Linked DNA regions of Homo sapiens. The protein of the gene in region 1 interacts with the protein of each later gene in a pairwise test. Each region holds a gene or a part of one and is shown in the gene's direction. Other genes may lie near its edges.

Region 1 (3,553 bases):
GGACCGTGTTTCTTCGCCTCGCCTCCCTGGTGGTCCTGCTCTTCTCTCTCTGGAATCAGATCACTTGTGGGGGCGACTCCGAGGCTGAGGACTGCAAAACCTGTGGCTACAATTACAAACAACTTCCGGTGAGAACGGCATGGGTGTGCGTGGGACTCTTGGGTCCCTGAAGGAAAGATGGAGCTGGGTGGGTCCAGACTCTTGGTTTGGGCGGAGAGGGGAGCTTGGGGTGCTGGAACACTCTCCCAAGGGTATGAAAGTTTGAAAAACGAGGACCCCCAGAGAAAGTATTGACAGGGTCTCATAGGCTTGCGATGTGGAGACTCGGACGCGTGGGCCTCCAGGTGCCCGGGTCCCGAGTTCTTTCTGATATATTTCTTCCTTCTTCAGTGCTGGGAGACTGTCCTGGGCCAGGAAATGTACAAACTTCTGCTCTTTGATCTGCTGACTGTCTTGGCAGTCGCGCTGCTCATCCAGTTTCCTAGAAAGTGAGAGCCCCGCCCCTTGCTGTGGCCCCGCCCCTCTAGGACGAGGCCGTGCCCCATCGCGCTGTTCTTTTCACCGCGCACCTTTTTACCATTCCCGCCTCTGCCTGCTCCCTTTGCTTGCCCTAGGTCCGCAGATCTCCCCGCTCCCCGCCCTTGTTTTAGTGGGTTACTTCCCTCTGGCCCCGACGGCGGCGACATCTGGGTCCCTTCTAGTCCTCAGGACCCGCCCTCTGGACACACCCCCTCCACGTGGAGTCCTGAAAGTCCCGCCCCCCCCCCCCCCACCACCAATACGCATGCTTCCTATTGGCGGGCGGGGCGGTGGAGGCGTGGAAACTCCAGGCCGCCACTCCCCTGACTCCGGCCCGGCCCCGCCCCGTCCTTCAGGCTCCTCTGTGGCCTCTGTCCTGGGGCGCTGGGTCGTCTGGCGGGGACCCAAGAGTTCCAGGTGCCCGACGAGGTGCTGGGGCTCATCTACGCGCAGACGGTGGTCTGGGTGGGGAGTTTTTTCTGCCCTTTACTGCCCCTGCTTAACACGGTCAAGTTCCTGCTGCTTTTCTACCTGAAGAAGGTAAGGGGTAGGGGGGACCCTTGGGTCTGAGGCAGGAGGTATTGGGGCCCGCACTCCTGGGTCAAGGGCAAGGAAGATCCTGGGGGCCTGGATTACTCGGTCCTGAGAGAGGAGGGGGTTGGAGGACAGACTACTGCATCTGAGAGGAGGGGTCTAGGGCATTCTGACTTATATGTCTGAGGATCTGGGGACTCAGACTCCGGGGTCCTAGATGAGGAAGGGGCTCAGACTCCTGGTTCGGAAAAAAGGAGAGGCAGGTAGGCCGGGTGCAGTGGCTCACGCCTGTAATCCCAGCACTTCGGGAGACTAAGGCGGGTGGATCACCTGAGGTCAGGAGTTTGAGACCAGCCTGGCTAACATGGCAAAACCCCGTCTCTACTAAAAATACAAAAAAAATTAGCCGGGCTTAGTGGCAGGCGCCTGTAATCCCAGCTACTCAGGAGGCTGAGGCAGGGGAATTGCTTGAACCAGGGAGGTGAAGGTCGAAGTGAGCCAAGATCGTGCCACTGCACTCCAGCCTGGGCGACAGAGCGAGACTCCGTCTCAAAAAGAGAAAACAAACAAACAACAACAACAGCAAAACAAATTAGCCGGGAGTGGTGGTGCACACCTGTAATCCCAGCTACTCGGGAGGCTGAGACACGAGAATAGCTTGAACCCGGGAGGGGAGGCTGCAGTGAGAGCCACTGCACTCCAGCCTGGGCGACAGAGCGAGACTCTGTCTCAAAAAAAAAAGCCTGGGCGACAGAGCGAGACTCTGTCTCAAAAAAAAAAAAAAAAAAAAATGGAGGCACAGACTCTTGTGTTTCAGAGCCCTTTTCTCCGTGCCTTCCCCCACCAGCTTACCCTCTTCTCCACCTGCTCCCCGGCTGCCCGCACCTTCCGGGCCTCCGCGGCGAATTTCTTTTTCCCCTTGGTCCTTCTCCTGGGTCTGGCCATCTCCAGCGTTCCCCTGCTTTACAGCATCTTCCTGTAAGTGCGAGAGGCTCCCGCCTCTCTCCCTCCCTCTCTCCCCATTCAGTGTTCAGACTCCTGGCACTATGTGAGCCCAGCCTGTCTTGACTTCAGGATCCCGCCTTCTAAGCTGTGTGGTCCATTCCGGGGGCAGTCGTCCATCTGGGCCCAGATCCCTGAGTCTATTTCCAGCCTCCCTGAGACCACCCAGAATTTCCTCTTCTTCCTGGGGACCCAGGCTTTTGCTGTGCCCCTTCTGCTGATCTCCAGGTGAGACGGCCCAGACTTCTGGGTCTGGGTTTGAATGCGTGTGATCTGGGGGCCACCACCTGCGTCCAAGAGAGGAGAGGCTTGGGCGTGGGAGCAGGCAACGTACTGAGTCTGAGGGAGGAGGCCTAGGCTCCTGGACTGCTGGGTCCGAAGGAGGAGGTGGGCGGGACGTAGGACTCCTGGATCTGAAGGCGGAGGGGCTGGGAGACTGAACTCCTTGAGCCCAGACGAGGAGGGGCTTAGGCGTCCACATCCCTGGCTTCGAAGGAGCCAGACGTTTGGATATAATGGAAGAGCGTGTCAGGAGTGGCTTCCGTTCCTGTCTCCTTCAGCATCCTGATGGCGTACACTGTGGCTCTGGCTAACTCCTACGGACGCCTCATCTCTGAGCTCAAACGTCAGAGAGAGACGGTGAGCCAGGCGGGTCCCTGAGAGGGCCCCTGGGGAACATGGAAAGGGGTTGGGGAAGAGGATTGTCTCACCTCCACCTCTCTTTGCCCCAGGAGGCGCAGAATAAAGTCTTCCTGGCACGGCGCGCTGTGGCGCTGACCTCCACCAAACCGGCTCTTTGACCCCCGCAGCCCACGTCCCGCTTTCAGACCCCAGGCCCATTGTAAGCCTAGGTCACAACATCTGTAAACTAGGAGAACTGGAGAAGACTCCACGCCCTTCCAGCTTTGGTATCTGGAGATTTCCAGGGCCCCTCGCCGCCACGTCCCTGACTCTCGGGTGATCTTCCTTGTATCAATAAATACAGCCGAGGTTGCTGAGCGCGCTTTGAAATCTGCGTCCTGAAGGTGGGGGCAGGGCTACAGCGGGGCAGGAGCCAATCAAATGTACGGGCATGTTTGTCGGTGCAGAGCGCTCTTCCGCAAGGAGACTTGTCGGTCATGTCGGCCAATCGACGGCCGCATCTGGTAGCATCAGGGGCGGGCCAACTTATGATTGGTTCAGATCTGTGACAAGAGGCGGTTGCTAGGGGATACCACGAGCCGAACGCCTAGCATTCGCTGTGATAAAGGGCGTCTCAGCCAATCACCTGTCGCTACAGGCCAGGGGGCCGTACCAACTAATTCGGAACCAATCCGCGGTCGAAGTAGGGACAAGAAAAAGGGGGGCATCCTCTCGCCAATCGGAAGTGCAAAGAGGCGGGCGTGCCAGTCCCTGGACAGCTACGACGCCATGAATATCTTGCCCAAGAAGAGCTGGCACGTCCGGAACAAGGACAATGTCGCCCGCGTGCGGCGTGACGAGGCCCAGGCCCGGGAGG
Region 2 (4,068 bases), on another chromosome or scaffold:
TGAAGAAATATGTCACTTCTCTCACAAATAATCAATCAGTCTTGGCAGCAAGTTACAATAGCGGTCCATCTCATCAGAACTGGCTCTTACTACTATGGATTCTAAAAAATCCATAACCCTGAGGTTGAAGACACAGTTCCTCTTTCTACAGCAAAGAGAATGCTTAATATTATCGGAGCCCTGTCTGCTCATAGACAAGGAACTCACAAAATAATAATAATGCTAGAAACTGAAGTGGTATATTACTTAAGAATAAAACTATTACCTTCAATGACATACTGACCAATACAGAATGTAAAGACTTTAGAAGAGGCTGGGCTTTTTTTTTTTGTTTTTTTTTCCTTTGATTTGAGGGGACTTTGGAGTCTCAATGTAAGGAAGCTAGCTGTGAGACTAAAAATTAAGATTCTCAATTTACAGTTGATTTTTCAGGCTATAAAAGATCTTGATGGCTTTTAGACACACTCATGATTTAGCTTTTTGCAAATAAAGGTGTTGAAAGCATAGAAAATTTCCTTATGAAAGAAAAATCTGTCTTGTTTTCTGCGTGTTTTACTCACTGGCTATCATTGACTAAAAATTTACACTACAAGCTGGAATTTTAACTATTCCACAATGTCAATTTAAATTTTCCATGAATAAATGAGAAATGCCATTGAGTGGCTGTTCTCCAGGTACTTTAAACGCCTCAGTAAGTCATGATAGCTGCCTAAGAGGATGGTCTGTACTGCTCATCTAAAGCACCTCTTCATAAACACTGTTTTAACTACTGTCTACACCTCAAACAGAAAACTAACACCACGTGTCACCTAAAAGGTAAACCCGCCTCAGCAAGTGGATCAAAAAGTCATTCTGGTGTCTTGTTAAGTATTACTTTCATCACTAATTTCCTTCTTCAGTTACTTATGTTTAAAGAAAAAAAAAGTGAGCCATTGATTTAGCCACTTCACTCGAAAGTGCACCTTCCAAAGGTGCTCTTGTGGTCAAAATTTTTCTTTGAAGACAGAAAAGGTGAAGGGCGGACTTCTCCTCAGTGATCCTGGTCACTGTGCAGCAGGTGGGTGTATAAGAAATGCACCAATATGGGCAATCTCAGAATAGAGGTTTGCAGAAACCGTTCCTAGAGGCACCAAAACGTAGTTAACCGGGTGTCTGACCACATGGCTGCCAGGAGCCTAGTGAGTCTGCGCACACGCACTACCTCCGCCCCGGCAGTTCCTGAGTGGGTGCGCAGGCGCAAGAGGAGCACACCGTTGCCATTGCAGACCGTCACTCCCTGAGGAGCCTGAGAGCCGGCCGGGTGCTGGGCTCCTGGCTATCCCTGTGATGGTAGCTCAGCGAGATCTGGGGACCTGGCGCTGAGCGCGTTGCCAGCCGGGATCTTCCTCTTCATCTAGGCCTGGGCGCTGGCGTGAGAACTCGGACTGGGTCCTGGACGAGCGCCCCCCGAAACTCCTTGGAACCTTGAACAAGTAAAATGCAGGGTAGTGATGTCGCTTTGCTGGAGTGCTTTCGTGTCAGAAGCCATAAAGGGACACGGAGGCTGATTACGGTGTTCCTCTCCCTATCATACTCTGTAAACAGTAGGCACTATTTACTACTCAGAGATGATAGCTGTAAAATGCCGATATGTTTTAGTCATAGAGAGAGACTTTTCAGTTATGAAGGCTGTTATTCAGAACAGATGGATGAAAGTTGATGCCTCTAATATTAAGGCCTAGAAAGAAGAAAGAAGGCTATTGCTTCTGAATTTGGAGAGGTGGTGACTGAACAATAAGGAAAGGATCAAACTTACGTATTTTCTTCTAAGAAAATAATGTATATGTGCTTTGTACTGTTTTGTAGAAGTTTGCTAATAAAGACATCACCAAAGGTTAAAGAGAAAATCATCTAGAGGAAATGCTGGCAGTATGGCATGTGTTCTTTAACAAATCTCTACAGCAGATTCTCTCGTTTTAGGGGTAAGATTTCACTTTGACTAACTAAATTTAAGATCATGAACTATTTCATTTTTTTAACGGATATATTGGATCTAAAGGGGGACAGACTTGGTTAAATCAAAAGGGTAAAAGTTTTTTTTTTTTCAAATGTTGATTGTCTTCTACAAATTTTGACTGATCTCATGTTCCTTCATGTGCTGAGATATGGGGATACAGACTAAACCAACACACACAGGATAATAGAGAAATCCAAGTAAGGTTTAAAAGGAAAAAAGAGAGTACTGCACTTACATTTATGCAGTAGGATGATTATAAATTTGTCTCTTCTATTAAGTTATAAACATGTGAAGTTACAGTTTAGCTTTCTTAATGAACACCAAGGAATTATGAGTATCATGCTTTTTCACATCCAAAGGGGAGAAAACATTTCCACTCGTGAACTTTTCTTCTGAATTTGAATGTTGCATAGATCAATTATCTAAGTCGCCTATACGACTGTTCAGCAGAGGTTCTTAACCTCTTTGGGGTCACAGACCATTTTGGCATAGAATGAAAACTCTGAATCTTCTTTCCAGAATTATGTACATGTCACAATCCTTCGCATTTTTTTTCCCTGGGGGCAGGGGGTAGGCGGGTCTGACCTCCTGGAACTCATATTGATTCTAGATTAAGAATCATTTTTAAATAAGAAAACCTATCTTGTCCTTCTCCACACACTGGCAGTTCTTAACAAGCATTGGCTAATTAGCTATCTCATGGTTTTATATAAAACAATAGTCAATCATTTAAAAAGAGATAGTACTTTTCAAGCTCACTTACTTTTTTAACAGTTGGGAAAGTCACATGGAATCACTATTCTTGACACCAGTATGCTTATATAAGAGGTATTTGCTGGATGCCTTCTCTATTCTGGGCACCATATTAGAGGCTGGTGATAAAACAATAAAAAAAAAAAAACTCCAGGCCCTAAGGGATTTTGCAGTCTAGTGGGAGATATTTCTCCAGGCAAATCCAAAGAATTTCTGGAAAATTACCATTCTTGCAAATTTGATGCAAGGGGAAACGTTAAATTCTAAATCTATAAAAATGCATGATCGTTACCAAAAAAGAGACTTTTTCTTAAAAAAAAAACAAAACTTCTCCAAAATGTATTTTTTAAAGTTAGCCAATTGCACTTATATATTTCATAGACTGCCTGCTTTGCAAAGAGCTGGAACTCTTAAAACATTAAATAGCTTTCTGTTTAAGTTTATATGAAAATAAAATTTATGTGTCCTCTGTCATTTTTAAAGAGTAATCAAAAATGTGATTAAATATATGAAATATCAGTTCACATATAAATTCAGAAATAAATTTGCTGGGATTATAATTATCTTCTTACAAATTAGAGTTGAGTAATAATTCTCCCCTATTCAAAATCCTTCCCCTTTCCAATGGGAAAACCGAGTTCAAGCGAGTCCATTTTGGATATTTTCTGTATTGCTGTGTTGGATTATGCCCCACTCCAGCATACTTGTGAAAAAAATCATACCAAATACTCCTTGAAGGAAAAGATAAATCAAACCTTTATAAAATTCAAAAAGTGATTCATCTTTAATAAATTACTAATGTACAAGAAAATGTTGGATTTATGGCTTCCTGCATTATAGTAGATTAGTAACCACATTTTCTCTGAAGTAACCCCAATATTCTCTCATACCATTACTTGATAGGTAGGGAGACTATCCAGTGATAGAATCAAACTGTTAACTTACAGGAGAATTGGCCAGAGCTACTATTATTGAACAGCCTGTTGCTTTCAGTATGACTGATTCCTATTTGGTAAATCTCAGTCCTTCCTGATCGGTCCTTTTTTCTGGGATAACCAATCCAGGAAATACATCATTAAGTGCATTGCTGTTTTACTTTTGTATTTGTAAAGGTGTTAAATGCTTCTTATAGTTAACACTTATTGGAATTGTGTTTTAAATTACATTATTTCGGTACTAACATAATTCTCTTCTCACAGACTATCCAGATTATGATTGGCATCTTTCACATTTTCATGTGGTACTTTCTATTGGTTTTGTATATGGGACAAATTAAAGGAGCCTTTGGAACGTATGAACCTGTAACTTACAAAACAGGA

The links.
Region 2: the proteins of TMC4 (region 1) and MS4A13 interact in binary tests that used the Homo sapiens proteins (3 or more experiments, as listed by UniProt).

The regions. Positions count from the first base shown.
Region 1 is NC_000019.10:54,159,608-54,163,160, reverse strand, and holds the end of TMC4 (voltage-gated chloride channel TMC4), read left to right. Parts: intron 1-1; coding exon 2-128; intron 129-390; coding exon 391-488; intron 489-875; coding exon 876-1,059; intron 1,060-1,900; coding exon 1,901-2,031; intron 2,032-2,127; coding exon 2,128-2,283; intron 2,284-2,550; exon of another isoform or gene 2,551-2,615; coding exon 2,616-2,694; intron 2,695-2,786; coding exon 2,787-2,855; 3' UTR 2,856-3,053; downstream 3,054-3,553. Other genes in the region: LENG1 (leukocyte receptor cluster member 1), read left to right, coding at 3,466-3,553. UniProt on the Homo sapiens protein: Voltage-gated chloride channel involved in high-concentration salt taste sensation. Depolarization induced by high NaCl concentration may trigger the activation of TMC4-mediated chloride influx into taste bud cells, helping the return to resting potential.
Region 2 is NC_000011.10:60,514,124-60,518,191, forward strand, and holds the start of MS4A13 (membrane-spanning 4-domains subfamily A member 13), read left to right. Parts: upstream 1-1,268; 5' UTR 1,269-1,484; intron 1,485-1,845; 5' UTR 1,846-1,961; intron 1,962-3,948; 5' UTR 3,949-3,960; coding exon 3,961-4,068. UniProt on the Homo sapiens protein: May be involved in signal transduction as a component of a multimeric receptor complex.